6 separate regions of the Homo sapiens genome follow, and all the other regions are linked to region 2. The links come from fine-mapping of genetic effects on gene expression. A gene starts in region 2. Each other region holds a variant in brackets. All regions are shown on one strand. Distances are between the middles of the regions.

Region 1 (5,094 bases), 48 kb before region 2:
GCTTTTGGTGTTTTAGATATGAAGTCCTTGCCCATGCCTATGTCCTGAATGGTATTGCCTAGGTTTTCTTCTAGGGTTTTTATGGTTTTAGGTCTAACATTCAAGTCTTTAATCCATCTTGAATGAATTTTTGTATAAGGTGTAAGATCCAGTTTCAGCTTTCTACATATGGCTAGCCAGTTTTCCCAGCACCATTTATTAAATAGGGAATCCTTTCCCCATTGCTTGTTTTTGTCAGGTTTGTCAAAGATCAGATGGTTGTAGATGTGTGGTATTATTTCTGAGGTCTCTGTTCTGTTCCATTGATCTATATCTCTGTTTTGGTACCAGTACAATGCTGTTTTGGTTACTGTAGCCTTGTAGTATAGTTTGAAGTCAGGTAACATGATGCCTCCAGCTTTGTTCTTTTTGCTTAGGATTGACTTGGCAGTGCAGGCTCTTTTTTTGGTTCCATATGAACTTTAAAGTAGTTTTTTCTAATTCTGTGAAGAAAGTCATTGGTAGCTTCATGGGGATGGCATTGAATCTATAAATTACCTTGGGCAGTATGGCCATTTTCATGATATTGATTCTTCCTATCCATGAGCATGGAATGTTCTTCCATTTGTTTGTGTCCTCTTTCATTTCCTTGAGCAGTGGTTTGTATTTCTCCTTGAAGAGGTCCTTCACATCCCTTGTAAGTTGGATTCCTAGGTATTATTTCAAATATTATTTTAAAACAATGAGATATTGAAAAATACATTGGAGCAAATTCTTCACTCTTAAATCCTTTCAGCACAGAGACGATCAACTGACTGTCTGGGTGCTACATGAGCACTATTGGAGTCTCTTTCATCTGCCTGAGTCTGTGCAACAATATGAAATTATAATTTTACTATGCACCTAAAGTTTCCTCAATATATTGAATTATTACAGAATTTGATGAGTCAAATTTTGTAAATTCAGTTACCTTTTTCCACTACTCTAGGACTCATATACTATCTGGCCTAAGGGTTAAAGGTCCACAATTGAATGAGCCAAACTTGTTAATTTGAGGGTAAAGCATGTCAAGAAATCTGGCCTTAATGTCCAATGAACTTATATCATATTAAGTAGCTGGATAGAAACATGCATTCCAAAGTGGATACTATTTATCACGCTCAGTGCTCTATTCTTGAGAGTAAATCCCATGATAGGGTGGATGCTTTAATTGTGTAGTAAATAGTATTAGGTGTAATATCAAAACCACTAAGGGAACACTGATGATGTGAATAGGAACACTACCTGTGGATCTGGGAATTTTCTATAGAAATCCTATCTCTTTCAATTGCCTGTTTAGTGGGCAAGTTGTTTCAGTTCCTATAATATCTAAATTGGAGAAAATCACACCACCTACTTCTTCAGGTGTTATGATAATTATGAGTGATGACATCTTTTTAAGTGCTTAACACAATTCCTCACACATAGAAAGCAATAATAAACATTGGCTAGCATTGTAAGGATGTTTATTGTCTTCTAATGTGTTTTCATACGTTTTCTCTCTGGGATCTTGAGTGAAACATGTGGATCTAGAACAAGAACAAAATGATATTACCTTAATGATCTTTATGTATTTACACTCAAGGTGTCTTAAAATATTTTGCTGGCCAACAAAAGACACCTCCTATTCTAACTGGGCATTGTCCTTTTCTTTAAACTATGCAGACAAACAATATTATAAAGTGAGAACATCAGCATAAAAAACATAAACATAAATCTTAATAGTGAGTTCATGAAAATTCTTACTGACGAAATGGCAGTGTCACAGACTGAATGTTTATGTCCCCCCGAATTTGTATATTGAAATCCTAACCCCCAGGGTATTCGTGTTAGGAGGTAGAGCCTTGGGGAGGTGATTAGGTCATGAGGACAAGATTCTCGTGAATGGGATTTGTGCCCTTATAAAAGAGATCCCAGAGAGCTCATTGGCCCCTTCCAAAGTATGGGGATATAGCAGGAAGTTGCCATCTATGAGCCAGAAGGGTGGACCTCACCCCAGATGATAAATGTGCCTTGATATTGGACTTCCCAGCCTGCATAACTGTAAGAAATTTCTGTTGTTTATAAGTTACTCAGCTTATGGTATTTTGTTACAGTAGCCTACACAGACTAAGACGAGTAGCATTTTGAGGATTGAAATTTCTTCATAAATGAATACAGTATGCCCTGTTAAACCATATTCTCAGCTAACCCCATTTACTCACTGTTCCTCTTTATTTTAGTTTCACATTTTTGCTATTTATCTCTGTAATTTTATTCATTCTTCACAATTTGCCATTCTTATACTTCGAATCATGTTATCAGTTTAAAATACCTCCATCAAATGATAGTCTGCATTTGTTTATCCTTGGCTGATTCAAAACACTTGGCATAATTTCCTTTAAATCATCTTCCTCCCATCTCACAACACTGTATTATTTTCAATTAATTTCCAATAAACTCTTAATTGTCCATGCTCTGTCAGAGTTGGCAGAGTTAATCCCTGTTTAAGCTGATAGGTTCAACTTCTTCAACAAACAAATCTTTCATGAAAGCTGCTGACAAGCCAGAGTATTAATTAAATCTAGTTTTGTTGCTTCTCACTTTCCTTTATCTTTCTCTCTTGTTCTT[T/C]GGGAAACAGTCACAGAGTTCTGGTGCTAATAAATACTATAAAAAGTAGGGAATACAGTCTAACGAAGCAGAATATTCTCTTTAAAGTTGATGTGGTGCTTTTTGTGCACCAAGCATTGGCTCAAACGCCCAAAAATTAGGCAGCAAAACTTCCTAAGCTCATCTTCAACCATAAGGCAGAAAAGCCAAATGTATCTGAAAATATAATATCACTGGTACCTTATACCAGCACTAAGAATAAGAAAACCCTGGAAAGTGGCTCGAGTACAATATTTTTCTATTGGAATTAATTTTTCAAAATGGAAAGGACTTCATTGTTATTTTTATTATAAAATTAGTATATGTTTATTATTAAAAATAAGTACAAAAATATCTAAAAGAAAAAGGGAAAAACTACCAGCAGTTCCACATTCCAGAGATCATCACTGTTAGCATTTAGGTATACAAATATCCAAACACTTTTCCTATCAATACAATTAATTTTTAAATTTGATCATTATGCAATGTACACATGCACTAAAACATCACACTGCACCCCATAAACACGTGCAATTATTATGTCAATTAAAAACAAAATAAAAACATTTTACAAAAAATCATGTTATTTTTAATAACTTGTTTTTCTAATTGTATATATCACAAAATAAATGTCTTTACATGACATTTATTTTATGATAATAACTAATTTATTCATTTAAACAGCAAGGTACATTTCATTCTACAGATATACTATATAATATTTACTCTGATCTCTGGATGAGAATTTATGTTGCCTGTAAATATTGTATCACAAACATAAGAATATTCTCTAAAAGGTTTTTTTCCTGTATTATTATTCGGGTAGAAAAATTACTAGAAATAGAATAACTGGGTCAAAGATTAAAAACAATTTAAACTTCAATATATAGAATCAAATTATTCTCCAAAATGTCGTACTGTACGGTATTTGAATTTTGATTTTTTTCTCCATTTTCCCTACTGCCAATAACTTTAATCTTTGTCGATCGATGAGACAAAAAAGACAAATAATGCAATACTATACATAGGGAGATTAATAGGTAGAAAAAGAAATGCAAATGGCCAGGATTAACAGAAGATGTTCAACATCAATCCAATCAAAGTAATGAGTCTTTAAAATGCAATAGCAGTCAATGTTAGCAAGATTGTAGGTATTAGACATTCTCATAGGAATATAAACTAGGGCCATGTTTTAGGATCATATTAGGTCACAGCAATTAAAAAATGTTAAATTCATATGCTCTATAGCAACTTCGCGGGTTGGAATTTATCACATGGAGAATCTTGTAAAATACATAAACCAAGATATGTTATTAATGTTATTCGTAGCCTATTGTTTAAATAAAAAATATATTTACACAATACAGTTTTTAAAAGTAAGAATATCTTGAAGGTAAATTAGTAAACAAAAATAGAAAGCCTAGGCCAGGCGAGACTTTATCTCATGCTTGTAATCCCAACACTTTTGTAGACTGAGGCGGGAGGATTGCTTGAGCCCAGAAGTCTGAGACCAACCTGGACAACACAGTGAGACCTCGTCTCTAGAAAAAAAAAAAATACAAAGCGTAGTTCTGAACATCATTTTGTGTAATACTAAAAGATAAAATTTTATTTTCTAACTTGTTTAAGATCTATATTCTATGTGGGGGATGTGTATTAAGGTCATTTTTAAAAAGATACTCAAGAAATTGTCAACAGTGATTATCTTAAGGAGAGATTCTAGATGTCTGGGGGTAAGAAACTAGAGGAAGGAGAATTTTATATTTCATTTTTACCTTTATTTAATTTTTTGATTTTCTTACTGGGTGCATGAATTATATTTTATGTCAGCATGTTTTATCAGATAAATAAAATTATGAGCTATTTCTGTTTCCTCTCATTTGTTTTATGTTTAAATAAAGGAAAATGAGGTATGTCTTTTTAAAATTTGATAATCTTGAGTCCATGATTATTATGAAAGCCCTCTGTTATCTGTTTACTTCCTTTCACAATGACTGTTTATGTTGTAGAATCATTAATTTCTCAAGACAAATGTCTTAGAAGGTAGATACAAAACATGGTATACATTTTTTGATTCAAGCTAATTTCATGTTATGAACAAAATTACATAATGTAATTTCTAAGACCTTTCTGTGATCTATCAATCCACTAGGTTAAATAGCAGAAATCACTTCCAAAACAAATCCTTTTGCAGTCAGCAAAATGAAACAATTATGTGAATAAGTTTTTCCACTTGGCCTATTTTTCTGTCCATGGTTATTAATCAGTCTCACTGACTACATTTTCCATTTTACATCCCCTTTCAGGCACTACTCCAGGTGGCCAAGCATATCACATTATGTAAATTAAATAAAACAAAATCTTTTCCCATCGAGCAAATGGATATACTTCACCTCTAATGCTTCCAGTCTTTCTCAGATCATTCAAAAAGCGTGATATCGTTTCCAT
Region 2 (5,094 bases):
TCAGGCTTGTACTTTTCTTAAGACTGTACTAATGGCTGGGTCATTTGGGAAAGGAAGTTGAATGCAAGAAAGGGAAATATAACTGCCACTAGCAGAGGCTATTTTGAGAGTCCACAGGCTTCAGCCCTCCTCAAAATCCATCATAGGGCTTCTTGTCGGCTTCACTCCTGGCCTGCAGCCATTGGCGGGGCGGTTTACTTCCTCGTGTGGCTTCTGTACATATTTATTCCTTTAAGTTCAATTCAATTGCTGAAAGGTTTCAAGAGAGAAAAAAACTTCTTGTAGTCCATGTCTCACCTTAGATGAATTAACCCCTTTGAGCCTGTTTCCTCTTTTGTAAAATGAGAAAAATAACAGCTAGTATATACGGGTTATTGTGAATATTAAATGAGTAACTATATGTAAAGCTTTTAGAACAGTTTCTACCAGTTCTGGATAAATGTTAATGAATTCTGGATAAGTTCTGGATAAATATTAAGTTCTGGATAAATGTTAGTTATTAATACCCACATCACATTATTGAACTTAATGCCGCATGTCCATTACCTTATACTTCCGCAGTTGGGCCTTTTGGCACAGGCAAAAAATTTATATTTTTCACTAATAAATTATATCTGGTGGCTTTGAATCATTATTCTAAACCGGTGGAATTTTTTCAGTAGAGTCTATCATCCAACATGTAGATTATTATCTTCAATTTAGTTTGGGATACCACCTGAGTTCTCCCTCACTGTAAATATTGATTTTATTTATTTAACAAATTGGTGAAGGGCCTCTTATGTGCCACGTTCCTGAATGCATGTGTGTGTATGTTGTATACTCATGAGTGTTTAAGGAGAGATAGAACTGTTTCATCTCAAAGGCGCATATAGTTTTTGATAAGGGAAGTATGTTGAGCACACATAATATAAACATTTAAATATTCGGAGATGGGGCAAGGTAAAGAAAGGATCCTGGATATGGGCTGACTTACTTTGAGCAAAGTGCTCCATAAGGATCTAGCCTGGAAGATCCTTGGAAGGATCTACGTTGGTATAGTTTTTAATTAGAGAAATTTATCTTGCAGAAATACATACTAGATAGGTTTTTATTTTTTAATCTTACTCCTTCAAATGTACAAATATTTATTAAATACATCACACCTTAAGGGCATGAACAGGGTGAGGTTAGCTTTGTTTAACCAAAACAGGGCAGCCCATGAAGCTTAAAAAAAAATCAAATATAGGACAAGTCACAAGAAGGCCTATTTTAAGGAGTGAGTAGTAAACTAAGAGCTCATCCAGACAAAAAAATATTTGGTAGCTTTAAAACTATTTCACATTTATTTGTAGTAAGGGTTCTACTTGGAAGATGCAAGCCTTGTGGCTAGATAACTATAAAATAAATTCTTGTGAGTTAATAGACTTTCAGCCTTTCAGAGAAATTAAAGCACATAATGGAAGAAGAAATACTCATGATTCTCAGTGGTGATGTGGAAGAGAAGAGAGCATTTTTGGCAGCCAAAGGGCCTACACAAAGCAACATATCCAGGAAGGACAAAGGGCTTGAACCTGTCCTACCCTAAACAGGAAGCATTTCAGGAGAGGACTGAGCAGGAGATATAGACTGTTGTGACTGTGGCTTTACTACATCAAAGGCTGCAGTGGATCTCAATAATGCAGAATGTTTCCTTTTGTAACTCATAGTGAATATGACTGGACAAGGAAATTATTTTGTAATTTGTTTCCTGAAAGATAAAGGAGTTAGAACATAGGATCTTTCATTGATTCTACAGAATCTTAAGACTCCTTCAGGGATGGCAGTCATTCCTACCGTGCTGAACATCATGTTGTCACGGTCAGAATCAGAACTAAATTGATTAAGGGTCTGAAACAGTTTGGCAACTCTTGGGCACTTATGCTGATAAGAAAAGTGATGAGACAGGGTAATGAAAAGAGGCTGCAAGAAATGACCATTCGTGCATTCAGCCAACATTTAGGCCACCCTCCTGTATTCCAGGCACTGTACATGGCACTGAGTATGCAAAGCAAAAGGAGTCATGGTCTACTGGCGGGAGCCTTCTCAGTGGAGAAAAGATCAACAAGAAAAGTGCCTGCTGGAGACCTCTCCTAGGGCATAAACCAATATAGAGGTGGGGCAGCTACGTCAGCCTGGGGTGTCCTTAGGCAGAACAGAAAGTGAGAATCAGAGCAGTATCTCATTTCTGAACACCTGGATTGTAGCTTTCCCTTGACTGTCAAAGGAGGTGGTTTTAAAAATCAAGCCAAACAGGTTTCCATCTTTTAGGAAGACCCTGGAACGTGCCAGTTGATTCTGACCATTTCTCATGAACAGAAACACCTAGGAAGGGAGAACTGGTGAGTTTCAAGAGGAGGAAGTCCCTCAAAAGGGGCTGTGTTTCGTAAACGGCGCCCCAAAAGGGCTGAACTACTTCGATCTGGAGGAAAAAGACTCAGGCACTGAGGGAAGGGGAGGGTGCACGTCTGGAGTAATTTTAAGGCCTTTTCCGTGTTATGTGATGTGGCAATAAGGAAAGATTTGTTCGTTTTATTATTTTTTTAATTTTTAAAGATTTTCTTTTCCCCCCTTTTCCCCCTCCCAGCCACTCCGGTTTGGGTTTGCCACAAGACTATAATTCCTTTAGAAAGTGGAGTCGAATTCATAAAAGTGATGGGGGGAGGGGCGCGGAGAGGGAAGGCTGGGAGCCCCAGGGAGTCTTCACGACCGCTCAGCTCCCGGCGCGAGTGGAGGTCGGTGTGGGGAGAAGCGGCTCCCGCCCGGGATGGCTAATACTCTGCGAGCCCCGGCAGCCCGCGGCCGGCGGGGTGACTAGGCGGCGGGCGCGGAGGGTCTGCGGCGGGCGGGCGGCGCTGCAGCAGCCTGGGCACGGCTGCCGCCGCCCGCGGGCGCGAGTGTGCGCGGGTGTGGAAGGCCGGCGTGCGAGCCGTGAGGGGTGTGCGCGCGTGAGCCGGAGCGGGGCTCGCCCCTCGCCGGCGCCCGCCGCCCAGCCGGTGATTGCTCTCTGGCTGTCCCCGGCACCTCGGCCCCCACGGCCGTTGGTCCGGGCGGGTGAGGGAGAAAGTGAGACTTGGTGTCATCACCATCCATTGTCAGAAGGGGAGGAAATTGGAATCCAGCAGCGGCGAGCAGCAGCTGGGCGGTCACATCTGGGAATGCAAAGCCGACCTCCCCCTCCTCCTCCTCCTCCCCCTCCTCCTCCTCCTCTTCTCTCACCCAGGATCACTTCCGAAACCACTTCGCCTTCAGCCCCTGCCTCGGCCAGAGGTTTCATTTTTAACTGAATATTTACGAAAGCTGGAAGCGTGCGAGGGGGGTGGGGTGGGGTGGAAATAGCGGCTGCTTCTTTTCCAGGGATTTATTTAATGGGGATGTGTTCAAGGCAAGAGCGAATTCAGAAGGATATCGACGTCGTGATCCAGAAGTCCAGAGCTGAGAAGGACTGCCTGTTTGCAGGTGAGTTCTTGCTTTTCCAGAACCTCGGACCCAGCGCCCCCTTCCCAGTTTTCTGACCGCGACGTCTGTGGCTGGGGGTGGGGTGGAGGGTTGCACGTCCCCATTCTGGGGTTCATTTGGCAACAGCTGCTGCAACGAGCGCGGGAGCCAAAAGGGGGAGGGGGCGCCAGCCTCTCCCCTTCCCCTCCCCCACCGCCAAGTCTGAGGCAGCCACCAGCTTTGAGGGCAGAGCCCGCGTGGCCGGAGCGGGGGTCTAGGCGAAGGGGCAGTGCGTGGTATTTCCAGCCCCGCGTAGTGCCCGAAGCCTCCAAGCACGCTTCCTGGGTTCCAGCAGCGGCGGCAGAGCGGGGTTGGTTTGCGCAATGGGCTGAGCGGCGGCGGCCGGGAATGGAGCCTGCTGCGCTGCGCTGCGCTTGTAAGCTGCGCCCGGCGCCGAGGACCCCCGGGGGGCAGCGCTCGGCCCATCTCCGGCCCCTTCGGCTCCCTCTAGTCCCCTCCGACTGGCAAAGAGAAGGGATTCCTCGGATTCCCAAGGCACCCAGCGCCCCTGCCTGGGGGTCGCCTTTCGTCCATTTTGCTCCCCCGGGATTTTGCTTTCGCTACCGCGAGCCCGGCTGAGGCTGCTTCCGGCCTCCCCTATCGGGAAATTCCCGCTGTTGCCATGGCACCCGGCACTTGTTGCGGGGGGCGGCCTCCCGCTGCACCCAGTCGGGGGCGCGCCGCATCCCCTCGGACGCGGCGCAGAGGGACCTCGCCGCCCTCTAGCCCTTGCCTTCTGCCCGGCCAGGCCTCCCCTGACACCACCGAATGTGGGGCTCAAGTCCTGATCGGGGTTAAAACAAATCCACTCCAGGGGTAGCTTTTGACGGGACTTTCTGTTTCAGATTTCAGATACTCTGACTCCACCTTTACTTTTACCTACGTTGGCGGCCCCAGAAGGTATTTATGTGTATAGAGTTGCTTCATTTCCTGTTCACACTCTTGTGTTTCCTTTGTTCTTAGCGTGTTCCGTGTTCGGGTATTTTGGTTGCTTGTTTGTTTGATTATTGTGGCTTTTCTTTACCTGCTACCCAAGCCTGACGTCCCTCGGTTTTAAATAGCAGGAGGAGGGGAATCAATGTTTGATTCAGGTGTTTCGAGGACCACGCCACAGGCAATGAGCAGAACTCTTCATGTTGAAACTGTTCTGCTACAGTACTAGATTGCTCTCAGGCGATTTGGGGTTGATACAGGCACGCCGGTGCAAAACTGGAATACTGGATATGAAGTGAAATGTATAAAAGACATAAAATGTCACAAAATAGTTTGATCAGAAGTGTTGATTTTCCTGGTGAGTTGGGGCTGCGTGTTTCCATGTTTTCTGAAGGTTTACATAAACATGCAGCCTGCCAATTCTCTGTACATTTTTTTTTCAATGAGTGGTATTTCGGTTTTCACGTATAGAAATTGGAGACTTATATGTAGCTGGAGTGGATGACTTCTTTCTTTTGGGGGAAGAATGAGAGATGCACATTTCGTTAGTAAATTGTGAACAACTTGAAACAAACCCAAATCCAATTTTGAATTTAGGAAGTAGAGTTAAAATGAAAGGTAGCCATTCAAATACTATGCCTTGCTACC
Region 3 (5,094 bases), 29 kb before region 2:
GCGTTACTTCTTACTGGTGGTGACAGTGGTTTCCTCCCTGGATGAGTTCTACAGCATGGTTTGGGGTACATTTCCTGGCTGCCTAGCTTTGATCTGGCTTTCTAGCCTTCTCAACAGTTCTACAAGTTCCCCACTATTTCTGTGGTAAACCTATTTATTGTTAATGTCAGCCATAATTGGCTTCTGTGGTTTATATTTTTTAAAATTCCAAGATATACAAATGTAACAGATAGCTCAACAAACATATGTCTTTTTAAATTAAGATATATTCTGTGTCACATGAAGTACAATGGACAAAATTCAACAAATTGAATTGCGCTAAAGACCAAAGATATATTAAGCCTGGCTAGTCTTAAAAATGTAACTGGATACAGCCAGGCATGGTGGCTCATGCCTATAATCCCAGCACTTTGGGATCCTGAGGCGGGCAGATCACCTGAAGTCAGGAGTTTGAGACCAGCCTGGCCAGCATGGTGAAACCCCATCTCTACTAAAAATACAAAAATTAGCTGGGCGTGGTGGTATGCCCCTGTAATCCCAGCTACTCAGGAGGCTGAGGCAGGAGAATAACTTGAACCTGGGAGGCAGAGGTTGCAGTGAGCCGAGATCATGCCAATGCACTCCAGCCTTGGCAACAGAGGGAGAATTTGTTTCAAAATAAAAAAATAAAAATGTAACTGGATAGACCTCAGGTTCTTGAATAAGCAGAAAATAATTTAGGTAAAAACCAAATAATAAACCAACATTCTAAGAGGTTTAGTATTTGGAGGCCCAAATGTCTTAGCTAAAAGTGTTCATTCTAAACTCACAGGAAAAGTGAAATATGAAAATATATAGAAAAATCTTAGGCAGTATTTTTCAATTTTAAGCAACAACTATTTACAGGTTTTTCAATAGGCATTACATTAAAAATGAAATATATAGTTAATAAATATGAAAACTGTGGATATAATCAACACATTTATTTTACTTCTTGAAGTGTTAACATGTGCTGTCTCAAATATCAACAGTGTACACGTGGGAAAAAACATTTTACATAGATTTTCTGCTACAGAAAACAGCCTCTCATTAGATATCCCAAGTTTTTTCATTTGGAACACACGCCCATTCCCCAGTATACTAGGGGTAATAATAATTTATAAAGTTTAATTACTTTTTACTACTAGAAAACTAATTTTATGTTTGGCACAAATTTCTGAAATGACATTCCACTGCAAAGAATAATACCTATATATGGCCAGAATTACTTTTTTTCTGTAACATTAAGATAATACTGGTCAGCCTGAGCAACAAAGTGAGACCTCATCTCTACAAAAAATAAATAAATTAGATGGGTGTGGTGGTGATGAGGGTCTGTAGTCCCAGATACTCAAGAGGCTGAGGTGGGAGGATCCCTTGAGCCTAGGAGGTCGCAGTTGCAGTGAACTATGATCACACCACTGCCCTCCAGCCTGGGTAACAGAGCAAGATCCTGTCTCCAAAAAAAAAAAAAAAAAAAAAAAAGATAATATTGGTATAATTCAGGGTTTTTGCCTCAATCCCCATGCTTCTTCATTTGACCCTCCCTGACTCCCTGATGAATTTTAGTTTGAAGTTTTGCTCTAGTCCAGAAGTTAATTTAAAACATCTTAATAAAATTTCCACCTGCCTAGATATTTCTTGTTTGTTACACTTTAGTCCATGATTTCTACTGCCATTTACATTACCCCAAAAATATGACCTGCTGAATTTCTGCTGTCATGAATTGACTAACATATTTTGGGCCTAAAACCTTTACATTTAGAATCTTTTTGTTTGGTATTTGAAAATAATGTATGTCCTCCATTTATTGGTCAAAAGCAGTGCCTATTTATTTCTACGTTTAATCAGAGAGACTTTGTAATAGTTATTTAATATTATTTATGTTCATTCATTTGTTGTATATAATGAGGTTAATTGCTATGATATTTTTATGTCGTTAATATAATAAAAAATATGTCATCTTTTCTCTTCCAATGAGTCTTTGGGTTATTAATTTTTAACTCAGGTATCAAGCTTGTAAAATGTTTAATGGCTTATAATAATGTCTAACACATAGTATCCACTGAGTTCTGGTAACTCCAGTTTATCAAATTCTCTTTTTTTATACCATTCTCCAAATGCAATGCTATTTGGTTTTATTTTTATTTTTTAAAAATGTGCTGCCTGATTTGAGTCTCTAAAAGTGTGAAATGTTCAGTATTTTCCAAATGTATTTGAACATGGAGTGTTATATTTACTAAAAAGTTAACAAGCAAGTATTCCCCTAAACACTCTAGCAAATACTACTAGTACAGACAAATTACGATCTAACATTATAGTACATTTTAATTTATTAGGTTAATTTTGGTTGCAAACAATAAAAAGCAAAATTCAAACTGGCTTGTATAATAGATTTTGAACAATAGTATAGGCTCAAGATAGTTTAATGCAGAAGTTCAATAATGACACAAAATAAATGTTTCTTGTCTTCCCTGTTTCTTCACTCTACCTTAAGTGGTATAGATTGAATGTATCCCCCCAAAATTTGTATATTTAAATCTAATCCCTAGTGTGATGATGATATTTGGCAGTGGGTCTTCGGGGGGTGATTAGGTCATGAGGACAGAGCCCTCATGAATGGGATTATTGCTCTTATAAAAGAGACCTTAGAGAACTTCCTTG[T/C]CCCTTCCACCATGTGAGGACACAGCAAAAAGACAGCGGTCTATGAAACAGGAAACAAGTCCTCACTAGACCCTGAATCTGTTGACAACTAGATCTTGGACTTCCTGGCCTCTAGAACTGTAAGAAATAAATTTATGTTGTTCATAAACCATCCAGGCTGTGATATTCTGGTATAGCAATCTGAAAGGACTAAGACATTAGGTCTCAGTTTTATTCTATGGCTTAAAATATCATGTCATGAGTAGACAACTTCCAATCCTAGTACCTTGTGCTTCCTCTGCTGCATTTGGAAAGAAGGCATTTCCCCCTTCAATCGTGGAATGAAAAAGGTGTACTTCATTCTGATTTGATTAGCAGAAGGCATATGCTCTTTCATGCACCAATTACAATGACCAAGAATTGGGCATGGGACTCATGTCACTTAAACATTGTGAAGCTGAGAAATTCATTATTTGGTTAGGAGTGTGTGAGATCAGGGAACACTGAATGCTTGAGGTACCACCACGATGTCCACTGCAGGTATTTCCATTTCAGTAAACATTTCCATTAAGATAATGCTAGAACAAAATCAGAGGAGTAGATCTTGGTGTCCCCAACTTTTGTTGACCTAACAAAGTGAAGTTGCTTCAACTGGACACTTCTGAACCACATTTATGCCCATATGTTCAGTCCAAATTTATTATAAGCAATTTTCAGGTCCATATGTTTAGGATATTTCATTTGTTTGGTTATGCATTATATGTATACATGTTTTTAACATACACACACCTCTACATATATTTTGCAGGCCTTTACACAAAAGTGTTTTCCCTAAAGGGAGAAGAGAAAAGTTGAATGCAGAAGTAAAAAAAAAAAAATTCATTTGCATTTGTAGTATTTGTATCTAAATATTTTATATTACAGACGTATTAAGATTTTTATCATTTTAAACACTACTTTAAAACAGGGAGATGGTTTACCTTCAAAAAATTTAGCTCTCAACTCAAAGTTATCAAAGTATATCCTAGATGTAGTTTGCTTGTCAGGCTTCTACATGAAAATTTAAAAGGCTCCTGCATTTCAGAATGAGCCTAACATATGTAATTGCACTCATCCACTATGTCTACATTGCCAACCAAATACTGACAGAGAGAGCTATAGAGTGCCATAGAGAGCTGGCAGCTTTTCTGTTTGCATTAGCTTCTACTTTCTTCTTCATCTTTCCTCTATGTCTGACACATTTCATGTTACTGTTTTTAAATGTTCCCTTAACTACAGAGCTAATGTGCTTATATCTGTCAGGGGTCTCATGTGAACCTCTAAATATTTAAAGATTCATTAGCTCCCTGGAGGGCCACCATGATTTCCAAAACAAGTCACAATACCTAAAGATCTAATTGTACAATTTCCCTCAGAAATAGCCTTGAGGAAGAAGTCACATCACTCAGCAATGAGTATTACAATTATTCACAGCAGTTTTCATGGTACTATATAACATCCAATTTACAGAATTAAAGGTAATGTAATTTGAAAGAAAAATACCTGGTTTTAAGGAATGAATGGCCATGTCAACTATTGGAAGCATCTTTGAATTGGAGCCTCTATGTTCAGGTTTCACCAGGTTTATGTTTTTAATTAATATCCTATTCAGCTTTCTGTAATTTCCACTGAGGTTTTCTAGAACAAGACAAGTCAGAAATTGATCTTTAATTATAAGCTAAGAGCAAACTGCCAAAGAACTGAGACAAATTTTGAAGAAAGAGGTCTATCAGGACTAACTATTTTAAGAGAATAAAGACTAATCAGACACACACACATATGCACAAAAAGAGGGAGAGAGAGCACAAAAATCCTACGAAATACATTTTAAAAAATTAATTTTTTTAAGAAGAAGCATTTGATCTGCCAAAGGGAAAACTTAGCAGTTTGGAGATCTGACAGTGCTAATCTCAGGGCAAGAAAATAACAAAATAAGACACCAAAGAATTACCTAAACTGTGAAAGATGAAGTTTTCAGAGTTCTAACAGAGAATTGGGATACTAAAGTACAAAGTTTAAGAGGTGTAATATATTAATGTTTAATTTATATCCCAAATACTTAAAAACTATGTTTCATTGTTATACATATTTATTTTATTATAAAGATAATGAATGCAGTAGGGTTAGATTTAAATAACTCATTGGTTTTAAAATGAGAAACGAAGGTCTGGCTTTTTACTACCTACAGTCTTACCATCAAAGTTAGCTATTGTTAATAATTTCTTGTCCATTCTTGTATGTGTTATGGTTTCTTTCTTAGAAAGAAGTACACTATACTAGTATACATACTATTTATTCGTGAACTTTGCATTTGTCATGTAATCATATGTCTTAGTGGTCATTTCATAATAGATGTCTCTCTTTCCCATGCTGTCAGTGGTGACTGCATGAGGC
Region 4 (5,094 bases), 110 kb before region 2:
CAGCCTTGTCCTGACTGCGGGGCAAGGGAGCTGGGTATTTAAATCCTGTCGAGTGCTGCTCCTGAAGGGTGAAAATTTCCTCATACTTCCAGCCTGCTACTGGCAACAGCAGAGTGGCCTCAGGCTGCCAGAGAAAACACTCAGACAAAGACACATAAATGCTGTCCTTAGAAGTCTACTGGTGTGGACTGCAATACTAAGAGCTTAGGTGACACGGGCAGAGTGCAGAGTCGGCTACAATAGGCTTCATAAATAGTTCTCAGTACACTGCACTACATTCTGATCATCCCAAAGACTGAAGTACTCTATAATCTTGTTTTAATTATGATATTTCTGAGTAAAGTGTTTAATTGTTGGTAGTGTCTTTTGAAATAATATAAATAATAAAATTATAATAGGAGTGGGCTGCTATAATTATAGCAATGAGCAGCATTGCTAAATTTATACAGAAACAGGTAGCCCCTAAAAATATTTTGGGAAAGGAATTACAAAACTATTTAAAGGGTGGCTCTAAAACATGAATTATAAAAATCTTTCCAGGTACATATGAATGCAATTTTTAAAATAATTTGGCCAAGAGTGAGCCACTTCTTTTGTTCTATTTTCTTTTTCATCTCACATGTTAGAATTGACCAAACTTGGTCTCCAAGAGAATGCAAACAAAACAAAACAAAACAAAACGAACATATTGGTCCTAAGGATATAAAATGATCTGAAGTGGAAGAATGTCAGAATAAAGACGCTGGTCATCTTGTGGTGTTTTCATGTAAATGTGATGGATATTTTATAGAACTTGGAATTATTGTACTGGAGTTACTCTAAAGCACTTTACATGACACCATTAACTTTCCACACAAAAATAAACTGCCATAAGGGATTGATTTAATGCCTATGAATGAGGATTGCTATCCCTTCATTTTTATGAATAATAAATGAAAATAATATATAAAATTTATGTTGTAATTTTCAACAAAATAGAATATTTTACATATACTTATTTTCTCACAATATCTTTAGATAATATTGCTTCCATTCTAAAGGATTTGGAAACAAGACTATAATGTCAAAAAAAAAGTCTGTTAAAAAGAATTTAAGAATCTCTAAATTTAAACATGCACTTCCACAACGGAAATGAGTGCTGTAAACAACAACCTGTCATTGCAGTGCTTTCACATTAATTGCCGCAACTAATTCTCAAAATATTCCATTTTAAAGGTAGGAAACTATGTCTAACATCAAACATCTGGTTATGGCCTCTCCCTCATTCAAAAGAAAGAAAAAGCCATTAGATAGGAGTTACCTAAATTTCCCACAAATAAATCCAGCAATCTTGTCTCCTTCTACAGTCCTCTTCTCCCTCTTCAAAGTAAAATAAAGAAACTAAGCCTCTTCCTGTGGAAGGCCAATGTCTTCACTGGTACTTCAGATCAACTTCTCTTTTGTCTTCTCAGAAGCCCGACATTATCAATTACCCTTATTCCTTGCCCCAACCACATCAGCTTTTAAATATCTCCATGGCTTCTCAGTATTTCAATTCAAGCAGAATAAAACAAACACAAACAAAAACTACAAAAAATAAAGGCCCAAAACAGAAAACCTCACCCCTTAAAATTCTTCTACCCCTACCTCTTCACAGCCAAATTTCTTGAACCAGTGGCCAATATTGAGTCTCCATTTCATCCCCACCCACTTCCTTCTCTATCCCCATTCTCTCCCCTGTTAAGTTTGTAACCCATCAAATTTTTCAACCTCATTTTAATTAATCTCTTTATAACTTTTTTTTTTTTTTTTTTTTTTTTGCAGACAGAGTTTTGCGCAAGCTGGAATGCAATGGCATGGACTTGGCTCACTGCAACCTCCACCTCCCAGGTTCAAGCTATGCTCCTGCCTCAGATTCCCAAATAGCTGGGATTACAGGCACGTAACACCACGCCCGGCTAATTTTTGTATTTTTATTAGAGACGGGGTTTCACCATGTTGGACAGGCTGGTCTCAAACTCCTGACCTCATGATCCACCCTCCTCAGCCACCCAAAGTGCTGGGATTACAGGCGTGAGCCACCGTGCCCGGCTCCTTGTAACTTTTGTACCTGTGGACCGCTCCTTTCTTCCCCTGGCTTCATTGTTTTCTGTTCATTCCTTGTCTTCTTCTTGTATTCTGGCTGTAACTACTCAATTTCTTTCTCAAATGTATCCTCTTATACCTACATATTAAATACTTCAAGAGCAGGTATTTCTTTCTCCTCTATATGCTTTCTCTCAGCAATTTATTAAGGCCAAAGGCTTCAATTACTATCTCCATGTATTGACTCCCAAATTTACACCTTCAGGATAGATATCTTTTTGCTTTAAATTAACATATCCTTTTTTTCTTCTATATATCTCCACTTAACCTGTCCCAAAGTCATCCTTTAACTCTAAATAAATAAACAACAAAAAGCAAAAGCTGAACTTACCATCTTGTCCTCTTTCGGGATTCACTAGCTTAGTAATTGGCACCACCATCCCTCCAATTTCACAAGCCAGGAACCTAAGAGTCTCTTTTCACCCACCCCTTGTACTTTCTTTCAGCTCTCATACCGAATCTTTTCCCCAACTCTATTAACTATGCCTCCTAAATGTATTCCAAATCCATTTATCTCTCCATTTCCAATGCCATCACCCTAGTCAAAGTAATATAGTGATGTAAAAGTAACTGCAGTTTT[C/T]GCCATTAATAGTACGGCAGAAACGGCAATCACTTTTGCACCAACTTAATACTATTTTCCACCCTGCCAATTGACAACCCCTCTGATGCCTCTAGTCTGATACACTGACAGCTGACAACTCCTCTATTCTGATACAAAAATCTTTTCAGCATATGACCATGCTCTTCTCCTCCTTAAAACCCTTTAATATTTACCTATGAGTTTTAGGATAAAATCCCTTGATGTGGGCTACCAGACCCTGCAAGCTCTTCTCCCTGCTTGGTTAATCATCAGGTTTCACTCAACCCTTCACACTGAGCTCCAGCCTCTCTGGACTTTCAGCTTCTTGAATACTTTATGTTCTGTTGCCCCAGGTCCTGGGCACTGGCATTTATCTCACCTTAGGACACCTCTCCTTGCCTAGGTCTTCCCACTCATTCTTCAAACCTCAGTTCATACCATTAGTTCCTCAGAAAACTCATACCTGCTCATTCACATCTACTCTCACATTCTTAAAATGCTCACCCTTCCATTATCTCAAGATTGTTAATTACATGCTTATTTTTATAATTATTTTATTAACATTTGTCTTCTCCCATTAGACTATGAGTTCAATGAAAGTAGGAAACATGACTGATTTTATTCTCCATGGCCCTTGTGGTATACTAACAATTCCAGCAGTTACTCACTATTTGCTAAATATATAAATAATCATGCCTGGGTCTTGACTTTAATGTGAAACTCTGACTGTTATGTTGTCTGCAGAGACTTCTCCATTGCAGAGAAACCCATCATGTTTAATAGATCCATTTGCATTTCTGTAAACCACATACAATGTATTAACAGTCGTATTTAACAACAAAAATAGACTTACTTTGAAAGCTTAATCCTAAAACCTCAGCTCCTCATGAAATTCTGCCATGTCAAAGAAAAGTATCTACTTTACTATATGTATGTTATTATTGATCCTTTCTTTCACTTGCCAGTTGAACATACTCATGGAAAACACTTATTTTCCCAAAGCAAAATAGAAGATTGTACCTGGGAATCTTGTAACTAAGAATAGATGTTCGAGTAATTCAGTTAATAGTGATTCTTCAGTTGTGGAGACATTTGTTATGTGGGGCACTGTCAGAACTTCTAGTCTATAGCCACACCACCCCAAACACGCCCAGTCTCATCTGACATGACTTACAGTGAGAGTGAGTTTTGTAGACAATGCATTGGGAGGAATAAAAAACTGTCAGTTGTCTGTTTTTTTAAACTCTGAACATTCTAGATGGCTTTCTAAATGGCTACATTGAGAAAGCAACCTTAGATTTGAGAAAGCTCTAGTTTGAGCAAAAAAAAAATATTACCTTTCTCTCTCTCTCTCATCATGGTAGTGGCTATCTTAGATTTGATCTGACATCTAATACAGTACTTTACCAAATGACTTTACCTTTACTTATTAAATGTTGCTGCAGTGACACAATTCAGCTGCACCCTTCACCATGCATAAAAAAATAATCCTGAGCCTCACTTTACTTGATCACTGACCACTCTGGAGACTTCCCACAATAGTCCAAATCTCAGTTATTCTTTATCTTGTGCCCTTGAATGCCAAAATGTAAATCAAGCTCACATATATTATCCTGTCTCACTTATAGCTGCTTTACAAGCACAGCATGAAGTCATTGTTCAGCACGGTTTACAGGTACAAACACAACTGAAATCAGTACTGGTTAATTTTCTGAGGGTAAGAAGAATATTGAACACGTGAATTGCTACTGAGTATTTTTGCATGCTAAAATATCACTGCTGTTTTTCATGATATTTTATTCCATACCAAATAAGAATGAAATGCAAGTCTATCTTTTACAGTTTTATACAAAGAAGCAGAGGTCTTATGATAATAAGTTGATGGTTTCTAGCAACCTGACATGTATTTTCTGTATTTTTCCCTTAAATGTTTTGGGGGTTTTGGAATTTTCTACCTAGAAATAGTCTATAAGTGAGAAATGAATTTGTTCCAAGTTGTAGGATTCTGTTTTGTTCTCACTAATGTTTAATTGTAATATTAGAACTTGGTCAGAAACGGTAATATATTATATTTCTTCACAAGTATTGGCTGTTGCTAAACTTGGAAATAAACATAAACTAATATATTAATAAAATATACAGTCTGAAGAGCTTGTTAAATTTTAATAATACTATCATTTATACAGAAAACACAAATATATAAACATTATGCTGTATGATTTACTTAGTAATATAATAAACTAGAAAAATATTTACAAATATTAATATTTACAATAAGGCTAGAAATGAGAATTTTTAACAGGCCAAATTTCCACAAAGCTTTTATTACTCTTACTGAAAAAGAATGACAATTAACTTTTACAAATGTAATCACTTAAGCCAAACATGCT
Region 5 (5,000 bases), 93 kb before region 2:
ACAGTAGACACAAACAAAATTAAATATCTAGGAATTAACCAAAGAAATAAAAGATCTTTACAATGAAATTATAAAACACTAATGAAAAAAATTGAGGAGGACACACAAAAATGGAAAGATATTCCATTTTTTTGTAGATTCATTTCATTGAATCTACAGATTCATTGAAACCCCTGTCACAATACCAATGACATTCTTTACAGAAATAGAAAAAGCAATCCTAAAATTTATATGGAATCACAGATGACACAGAGTAGTCAAAGCTATCCACAGCAAAAAGAACAAAACTGGAGGAATCACAGTACCTGACTTCAAATTATACTACAGAGGTATGTTAACCAAAACAGCATGGTACAGGCATAAAAATAGACACATAGGCCAATGGAACAGAATAGAAAACCCAGAAACAAATCCACACACTTACAGTGAATTTATTTTTGACAAAGGTGCCAAGAACACACACTGGGGAAAAGACAGTCTCTTCAGTAAATGGTGTTGGGAAAACTGGATATTCATATGCAGAAGAATGAAACTAGGCCTCTATCTCTTGCCATATACAAAAATCAAATCAAAATGGATTAAAGACTTAAATCTATGAAACTACTATAAGAAAACTTTGGGGAAACTCTTTAGGACATTGGTCTGGGCAAAATTTTCTTGAGTAATACCCCACAAGCACAGGCAACCAAAGCAAAAATGAACAAATGGGATCACATCAAGTTAAAAAGCTTCTGCACACAAAAGTATACAATCAACAAAGTGAAAAGACAACCCACAGAATGGGAGAAAATATTTGCAAACTACCCATTTGACAAGGGATTAATAACCATAACATATAAGGAGCCCAAACAACTGTATAAGAAAAAAAACTAATAATTCAATTAAAATATGGGCAAAAGATTTGAATAGACATTTCTCAAAAGAATGTCTGAAATATCTGAATACAGGCATATATTGAGATGTTCAACATCACTAACAATCAGGGATGTTCAAATCAAAACTGCAATGAGACATCATCTCACTCCAGTTAAAATGGCTTTTATTCAAATGTCAGGCAATCACAAATGCTGGCGAGGATATGGAGAAAAGGGAACCCTCATACACTTTTTGTGGGAATGTAAACTAGTGCAACCACTATGAAGAACAGTTTGGGGGTTCCTCAAATAACAAAAATAGAGCCACCATATGATCCAGCAATCTCACTTCTGGGTATGTACCCAAAAGAAAGGAAATCAGTATATTGAAGAGCTACCTGCACTCCTATGTTTGTTACAGCACTGTTTACAATAACCAAGATGTGAAAGCAACCTAAATGTCTACCAACAGATGAATGGATAATGAAAATGTGGTACATATACACAATGGAGTACTGTTCAGTCATAACAAAGAATGAGATCCTGTCATTTGCAACAACACGGTTGGAACTGTAGGTCGTTATGTTAAGTGAAATAAGCCAGGCACAGAAGGACTAAGATCACATGTTCTTATTTATTTGTGGGATCTAAAAATGAAAACAATTGAACTCATGGAGATAGAGAATAGAAGGATGGTTACCAGAGGCTGGTAAAGGTAGTTGGGGAATTGTGGGGAAGTTGAAGGTGAAGTGAGGATGTTTAATGTGTACAAAGAAAATAGAATAAGCTATATTTGACAACACAACAGGGGAAATATAGTCAATGATAAAATCAACTGTGTATTTTAAAATAACTGAAAGAGTATAATTGGATTGTTTGTAACACAAAGGATAAATGCTTGAGAAGATGAATACCTAATTTATGACTTGATTGTTTTGTATTGGATGCCTGTACCAAAATATCTCATGTAGCCCATAAATATACACACCTACTACGTACCCACATAAATTAAAAATAAAAAAACACAATTTGTAAAGTCTTCTTCTTTTTAGTTTGAGACAATGAGAACAGTGGACCCCACTCAATTAAAAACCCATTGCATTAATAATCCCATTACAACCCTGAATCCCTTTTCAAAATTGGCATTTTCTCAGTATTTATGTCTTCTTCATCTGTGTTCTTTTAAAGTTTTAAATGCATGTAGTGTTGCATTACCCTGTGATGTTTTCTTTGGAGCCTCTCTAAAATATAGCTATTATATTATGATTTACTGGGAATAGATAGGAAACTACATACTAAAATCATTTGAGGGCTTTGAAAAATATTGTTGCTTGGGCACAATTAAATCAGAATCTCTGGAATAGAACCCAGATGTGAGTATATTTTTAAAAGTCAGGATTGAGAGCTGCTACTTTAGATCATACGCTGCTTCAAGATAGGAAATTTTCCTTCTCTTTTCCCTGGGAAAACAAAGCAAACTAAAAAAAAAAAAGGGAAATTAGGGCATTGGTCTATCCACAAGGAGCCGTAGCAAGGTTTGGAGGCCTGGAAACTAGAAAGCTCCCAAGAGGCGAATCTGGAAGTCATAGAATCAGAGGACATAATTCAACTGAGGATATCTACTCAGCTATTATACTAGGTGCTGTATTTGTAGTCTTCATTTCAGCTGAGAGTCCTAAGCCCGTGAAAAGTAACTCTTGCTCAAAATTAATTATTTAGTTAAGATCAATTAGTTGTATTTCTCTAGTCTACTCAGAAGGCAGTGGGAAAAGGGCAGAGTCAGGCATGCCTTAATTGTAGCTACATCTCACTCAGTCTCCCATGTAGCACCTGGATTTTTCAGGTCTCAACATAACTTTATTTCATATTTAGTAGATGTAAAGATGTTCTTTTCAGATTCATTTAATAAAAGGCCCAGAGGCCGGGCGCGGTGGCTCACGCCTGTAATCCCAGCACTTTGGGAGGCCGAGGCGGGCGGATCACGAGGTCAGGAGATCGAGACCATCCCGGCTAAAACGGTGAAACCCCGTCTCTACTAAAACTACAAAAAATAGCCGGGCGTAGTGGCGGGCGCCTGTAGTCCTAGCTACTTGGGAGGCTGAGGCAGGAGAATGGCGTGAACCCGGGAGGCGGAGCTTGCAGTGAGCCGAGATCCCGCCACTGCACTCCAGCCTGGGCGACAGAGCGAGACTCCGTCT[C/A]AAAAAAAAAATAAATAAATAAAAGGCCCAGAATTTCTAGCTAAACACCTGCCATAGGAGGCCCCAGGCACAGAAGGAGCATCGTAGGATAGCCTGTGGCTCAGAACTGTGGTTCAGAACTTGAGGCTAGGAACCAGAGGCTTACTCGTCCTAATGAGTAAAAATCATCTTGATTTTTAACTTGTCACCAACAAATCTGTGCCTTGATCTCCTCATAGGTCAAAAGGATATTGGATCAAGTGTCGTACATACCTCAAAGGATTTTGTGAAATGAGACAAGATAGAGCTAAGTACTTCAAAAACTGTAAAGAACTATTCAAACGAAAATTATTTTTATCACTACCATTATTTATAAATGATGGATTCAGCCCAGTTCTATTTGTTGCCAACTTTTGTGATAGAATGGAGCATGGAAAGTAAAAATGAAAAAAAACTCAGTATATTTAATGATATAAACCAAAAAAAAAAAAAAAGAAAAAAGATTTTCTTAAAAAGAAAAAACATACTAAATATTTGTGATGATAATGAAAATTTGGTGGTGGGAGAGAAAAAAATGTTGTTGTTTTATTTTGCTATATTTATGATGTCTCAGTATTCTTTCTACTTGTTCTCCCTTTAGCAATCCAAGCGTTGTTAGGGAAGAAATGGCCGACTTTAAATTCAAGTTGAATTCTCTAAACTCCAGAAGGAAGTATTGTCACTTCCGAAGCCAAAATAAAAATTTTGTCTTTATTCTTATTATATTCTCCAGGGAAATTTCAGCTCCTCAATGCAGTCCCCAGAGACATGCTGCTGAAAGGCTCTTTGGATATGCTGCTGAAAGGCTCTTTAGCTACTCTGAAGAAAAAGATCTCAAACTTCCCCTGAGATCCACTATAATTGCTGGTTTTAGATATTTATACATAGAAAGTCTTTCTTCTCAAAATAACTTTTCAGAGAAGTATTTTCCAAAACTATCATTAATATTAAAATTCCATGATAAAGGAGTTAACCTCATATCAAACCAGGAAGGTTGTAAACACGTTTTATGAATACCTAAGGAATCCATTGCAAATAAGAAAATGAAAGTACACAAAAGAAAGTGTTTTAAGCCATCAGGAAGAATTGTGTTCCATTTAGCTCTTGCCATGGTTACTCTTCTATTTTGTTTTCCTTCAGTGTTTATAAAATTAGTCAATGCTATTTTATTTTATTTTTATGATTACCTTTGGATGTATCATTATAAATAACCAATAAATTTTTTCCTTCTGAAAGGTAAACTTGCACATTATTGTGTATGCAGTTAGCATTCAAAGAATACTTACAAATTATCTACTAATCTGAGTGATATGAAATTTCCATTTTCATGAATTGAATGTAATTTTATCAACAATCTCACATGCCAAAGCTCATATCTAATTCTTGGCAGTCACCTTTTCTAAATCAACTAGCTTATATTTTATTTGTGAATATCTTTTAAAAATTCAGGTTTGTCTGTTCATGTCACAAAAGTTTAGCGAAATTTTTTCTCTTCTTAGTGTAAACATTTGCTCTTTATGACAAGTAAATCATATTTCTTCATAGTATAATTATTTCAAGTATTTAAAAAATATTTTCCTTTATAAGTTGTGTGTGTGTGTGTGTGTGTGTGTGTGTGTGTGACAGAGTCTCACTCTGTCACCCAGGCTGGAGTACAGTGGCATGATCTCTGCTCACTGCAACCTCCACCTCCCAGGTTCAAGTGATTCCCCTGCTTCAGTCTCTTGAGTCGCTGGAATTATAGGTGCCTGCCACCATGCCCAGTGAATTTTTGTATTTTTAGTAGATACGAAGTTTCGCCATGTTGGCCAGTCTGGTCTCAAACTCCTGACCTCAAGTGATCCACCCACCTCAGCCTCCCAGAGTACTGGGATTATAGGTGTGCACCACAACACCCAGCCTCTTATAAGTCTTAACACACTTTTCTGTA
Region 6 (5,094 bases), 75 kb after region 2:
ATGTTTTAAGAAAGTTTACAAACTTGTGTTGAGTTGCATTCAAAGCCATCCTGGACTGCATGTGGGCCACGGCTTGGACGAGCTTGGCTTAAACAGTAAAAAGGATAGTTATTTGTTCATGTAATAAAAAATTTATTATTGATAATGAGACGTAGGCTTAGTTTACATCAGGGCTCTGCCTCTGTCTCTGACATTTTCTAAGCTCCACATTTTTCTGTATCAAGCACATTCCTAGACTGGCTTCCCAGTGGGTGTGAGAAGGCTAACCAGCAGAGACCAGAGCTGTCTGCTTCCTCATTCACATCTAGGAGGAGCAAGAGACTTCCCACAGGTATTGAATCAAAGTCCCAAGCTCTACTCTGAATGGAGCACCCTGAACCAACAACCATTGAGGCCAAAGTGTAGGACACAGGCTAGGTAACTCCTTTCCTTCCATTGCAGGGGGATCTGTTATCCTGATGGCTTATCCAGTCATTCAGTCTTCCTCTCCACCTGGGAGAAGGGATTCTCCTCATGAAAACCTTAGGGCTTCCATATGAAGAAGGAGAGGAATGAGTGGAATGGATATTGAGGAGGCCTTTGGATGTCCATTACAGATTTATTCTGCTTTTACTCATTCGTTAATTTTTTTTGTGGGGGGATGGGGGTGGGGAGGGAGTTGAGAAATCATTTTTTTGATCATCTCCTCTCGCTACATCAGCTGCATTCTTCCATATTTCATCTTCCTTGTAATCCTCTTCACAACACTAGGGGAGTAGATATTATTAATCCAAATAAGCAGAAAGGAGTTAGCCAATTTAATTTTCTGAGGTTTATATTGTAAAGGCAAAATTTAATTCAAGCCTATCATATACTAAAGTCTGTGCTCTTTCTCCTGGTTATAAAATAATTCTTATTTACACAATAATTTTGTAAGGAAGGTTATTCAGACTTGGAAGATCAATGGGTATATACATATATATATATATATATATATATTTTTTTTTTTTTTTTTTTTTGAGACGGAGTCTTGCTCTGTCACCCACGCTGGAGTGAGGTGGCACGATCTTGGATCTCTGATCTCGGCTCACTGCAACCTCCACCTCCGAGGTTCAAGCAATTCTCTGCCTCAGCCTCCCGAGTAGCTGGGATTACAGGCACCCACCACCACGCCTGGCTAATATTTTGGTATTTTTAGTAGAGACGGGGTTTCACCATCTTGGCCAGGCTGGTCTTGAACTCCTGACCTCATGATCCACCCACCTTGGCCTCCCAAAGTGCTGGGATTACAGGCATGAGCTACTGCGCCCGGCCTGGGTTTATATATTTTTAGTAAGCATTCATTCTACGTATATTTATAATGTTCCCACTATGTGCTAGGTAGATGGTAGGTGCTGGAAATACAATGGGAAGAAAACAGGTGCCTTCTACTCTATGGATTTAGCAGGGGAAGCAAATATTAATAAGTCATACAATCAGCCATATTTACAAACTGTGTAACTGCTCCGTAGTAAGATCTGATCAAGTCTGGGAAAGGTCATCAAAGTTTTTTCTTAGGAGATGACATCTGAATTGAGAACTGAAGGATGAGACTGAGTTAACCAGGTCAAAAGGAGGAGGGGAGAGAGAATTCCAGGCAGAGGGAACACAACATGCTCAAGAACTGAAAGGAGTCTTTTTTGTTGGAGCATAGAGAGAACAGTGGAGCATAGAGAGAACAGTTGGAGCACAGTGAGGCAAGACAAAGATGAGACGCATAGATAGGGAAGGTCTTGCGGGGGCTTTAGGTGCTATTAAAATTATGTTTGAGCATGGCATGGCGGCTCATGTCTGTAATCCCAGCATTTTAGGAGGTGCTTGAGGCCAAGAGTTTGGGACCAGCCTGACCAACATACTGAGACCTCATCTCTACACTAAATTTTTTCAAACTTAGCAAGGCATGGTGACTTGGGTCTGTAGTTCTAGCTACTTGGGAGGCTGAGGTGGGAGGATTACTTGTTGCCAGGAAGTCGAGGCTGCAGTGAACCGTGATTGTGCCACTGCTCTCCAGCCTGGGCAATAGAGTGAGACCTTTTCTCAAAA[GA/G]AAAAAAAAAAAAAGATTATATATTTGATATTCCACAAGAAATTAACTTGGAAAGAACTTATTTTATTTGCCTTAAATATTTAAGATGCTGAGGGTTGTATCATACTATCGAAGTTCTTTCTAAATATTTGTAGTGTTTGTTCCCTTTCCATGACAAAGCCTTAATTGAGCTATAGAGTTATTCAGTCGTATTTAGTTTTTCCGTCTTGGTATGCTGTGCAGATCATTTATAGCCTCTTTAAACTTTTTATGACCACTTAAAACTTGAACTTAGATATAAAACAGTGAAGGTAAAAACATCTACATGTTAGTGAATATTTATCAAAAGAATACTGAATTAGTTATAGTTACAAAGTGTTCAGTAAAGAAAAGCTCAGATATTAAACTTTCGGGATGCAATATGGAAATAATATTTATATAATTAATTTAATCGAGGTGTTAGTGTTTGATGACATGCTCTATCTACTATTCATATTTTATTGGAATTGTATTGTTGTCCTTTTATTTGTAGTCATGAGTAAAGAAAAAGAGAGAAGCACAGCTTTATTTAAATATGTTGTTGTCTTTTGCATGGAACTAAGGTAGTGTAAAAAAACCATTTTCTCACTTGCTTTTAAAAATACCATTATAAAGCTTGCATCAATGTTACTAATCAATGTCAGACTTAGTTCTCTCAGGTTCCTCCCTGTTGAGAAAATAGCTTACTTAGAAGTCCAGACATTTAACTTACAGTGTAATATTTAAGCGTAGAAGTTGCTGACTTGGCCACTTCCCTAAAAATCAAACAAACAAAAACATTACTTTTGATCCTGTTACTTCACGTGCTGAAAGTATAACTTAAAAAATTACCAAAATAAGTTTTGAAAATAGGAAAATATATTATTGAGAAACTAACTTAATGTTTGTTGGGCAAGAGTCTTCATCCTTTTACCTTAGTAAAGGGTAATACGTAATTTATTTCATAGGTGAGAAAGATGTGTTTTCTTTTCTTTTCTTCTTTTTTTTTTTTTTAGGTAGAATTTCATTCTTGTTGCCCAGGCCGGGTGCAATAGCGCGATCTCAGCTCACTGCAACCTCCGCCTCCCAGGTTCAAGTGATTCTCCTGCCTCAGCCTTCTACTAGCTGGCATTACAGGTGCACACAACCACGCCTGGCTAATTTTTTCTGTTTTTAGTAGAGACAGGGTTTTGCCATATTGGCCAGGCTGGTCTCGAACTCTTGAACTCAGGTGATCCGCCCGCTTTGGCCTCCCAAAGTACCGGGATTACAGGCGTGAGCCACCGCCCCTGGCCGCATTTTATTTTCTAGAAGGAGAACTTAGTGTTCTTGTCTTCATGTTGAGTGGTTCCGAATAAGGGAGGGGGCAGATATTGTGTGCAGTAGTTCATATAATCCTATTTTTGGCAGTTTGGCTTAAAAACAAATACATTTGTTTATTTTAAATAATGCTACCATTAATATCTTTGTGGCTAGTTTTTTTCCCCACTCACATAGTTACATATGTTTGATAGATTTCAAATTGTGAAATTGTTAGATTAAATTAATAGAACAAAGCCCCAAATGGAGTGTGGGTTTATGAGTTCTGTGCAGCAAGTAGATGGATTAATCTTAGATTACAAGGACAGATAATTCCTTCTTCCTGGGTACAAGGAGAGGAGTATGAGCTTGTAGGTGGTTGGTGGGAGACAGAATAAAGGGAATGCCTTGAGGAAGTAACCATATGATAATCTCTCTTAATGTGGAAAGAAAGCATTTTGATGAGAGTGAAAGGGTAGGTTGTTATACGGTGTTTGGAAAGCTGTGAAAATTTGCAAAAACAACTAGGAAGAAAAAGTAAGGGGGTTTATGAAGAATGGGTTTCTCAGGTTACTGAGCAGAGTTGTTAATAGATAATATTGAGAACCACATGTCTGTAGGGCACCAGGCCCCTTAGTTTCATTGTCCTTTCCAGCAGCATTCAGAGCCCAGGTCCAGGAGCTGAGCATGGCAAATATGACCTAATCTGCAGTTTGGAGCTGGTAGGATCAGGTAGTCTGCAGGGGCAAGGTAGGCGCTGCACATTGAAGGAGTCGAAGATGCTGTGGAGAGAGCAGTTAGGTATCTAAAATCATGGGAAGATGAAAATGAAGCTCAGAGGGACTGGTAAAGACACAGAGTGAATGCATTGTTTAAGGATGTTAGAAGTAAGAGGAAAGGAGTGAGAGCTGGGAAAATTATAAAATTGTGGTTAGAAAGTGGGACATGGGGGTTTGAGATTTTAGAAGGGGAGCCATTCACTCCAAATCAAGCTTCAAGGTATAGCCATTTGGAGATTTGGTGAGCTAGTGGTAGGGAAAACGAGGCCATGGAACTACGTGCAGCTTAACGTTGTCCAAATGGATGGGAGTGATGTCAAGATTTTTGGTAAAGAGGAAAAGAAGGTCCTAGAGCTCCCCAACCCTGGATAAATGACAAAAAGATTGTAGCTCATAGTGGTGAAGAATGAGGATGCTGTAGCTGATTGACCTGCACAATTTGAAAATGTTTTTAGAGGGTGAAATGATGATGAACATGAAAGTGAATGTTTTGGGAACTGAATGGCATTAAAGTAGCAAAGGTGAGCTTCTAGTATGCCCCAAATTACCTTCTAGCTTGAGACACTAGAGTTGGGTCTGGAGGTGGGTAGTGGGACAGCATCTCTTTCACTCTGCAGCACTTGAAGAGTAAAGAAGACAGAATTAATAAGTGCTGGAGTGAATTTTCTTCTAGAAAGCTCCAGTGTGTCTGGGGGTGAGATGTGGTCTCAGGTTTCAACTGCTGACTTGCAAGTGAACAAAGACTGAGACCTAACCAGGCACGATGGCTCAAATCTGTAATCCCAGAGGTTTGGGAGGCTTGAGGCCATTGCATTCCAGCCTAGGTGACAAAGTGAAACCTTGTCTCCAAAACATAAATAAATAAATAAATAAATAAAATTAAAAATTAATTGATTAAATAAAATTGAGATCTGTACTCCTAAGCATCTTCGCTAGGGTAGAGGATTGTTTGTCATG

Direction of the effects. Positions count from the first base shown, and alleles are read on the strand shown. Sizes are in standard deviations (SD) of each study's normalised expression. Not every link is listed here.
With allele G in place of GA in region 6, the expression in T cells of the gene that starts at base 2,925 in region 2 is higher (small effect, 0.36 SD a copy in GENCORD).

What was found. PIP is the estimated chance that this variant, and not a neighbour inherited with it, causes the effect.
Region 1: its variant is the best candidate, but not a certain one, in a credible set for the expression of PARP8 in whole blood (TOPMed, PIP 0.60).
Region 3: its variant is the best candidate, but not a certain one, in a credible set for the expression of PARP8 in whole blood (TOPMed, PIP 0.53).
Region 4: its variant is the best candidate, but not a certain one, in a credible set for the expression of PARP8 in whole blood (INTERVAL, PIP 0.56).
Region 5: its variant is the best candidate, but not a certain one, in a credible set for the expression of PARP8 in whole blood (INTERVAL, PIP 0.61).
Region 6: its variant is the best candidate, but not a certain one, in a credible set for the expression of PARP8 in T cells (GENCORD, PIP 0.53).

Annotation. Positions count from the first base shown.
Region 1 is chr5:50,615,294-50,620,387 of GRCh38, forward strand. No RefSeq gene overlaps it. Among named protein-coding and RNA genes, the nearest start is that of PARP8, 49 kb to the right of the region's middle. The variant T/C (reference allele first, on the strand shown) is at 2,629.
Region 2 is chr5:50,663,713-50,668,806 of GRCh38, forward strand. PARP8 (poly(ADP-ribose) polymerase family member 8) reads left to right here and starts at 2,925. Exons shown (of 26, transcript NM_024615.4): 1 at 2,925-3,474; 2 at 4,359-4,413. The coding sequence starts at 3,384. RefSeq lists silencers at 2,768-2,917, 2,968-3,027, 3,720-4,049 and enhancers at 3,200-4,112, 3,548-4,747.
Region 3 is chr5:50,635,052-50,640,145 of GRCh38, forward strand. No RefSeq gene overlaps it. Among named protein-coding and RNA genes, the nearest start is that of PARP8, 29 kb to the right of the region's middle. The variant T/C (reference allele first, on the strand shown) is at 2,683.
Region 4 is chr5:50,553,718-50,558,811 of GRCh38, forward strand. No RefSeq gene overlaps it. Among named protein-coding and RNA genes, the nearest start is that of PARP8, 110 kb to the right of the region's middle. The variant C/T (reference allele first, on the strand shown) is at 2,705.
Region 5 is chr5:50,570,480-50,575,479 of GRCh38, forward strand. No RefSeq gene overlaps it. Among named protein-coding and RNA genes, the nearest start is that of PARP8, 94 kb to the right of the region's middle. The variant C/A (reference allele first, on the strand shown) is at 3,053.
Region 6 is chr5:50,738,756-50,743,849 of GRCh38, forward strand. The region is part of intron 2 of PARP8 (poly(ADP-ribose) polymerase family member 8); the gene reads left to right. Among named protein-coding and RNA genes, the nearest start is that of PARP8, 75 kb to the left of the region's middle. The variant GA/G (reference allele first, on the strand shown) is at 2,062.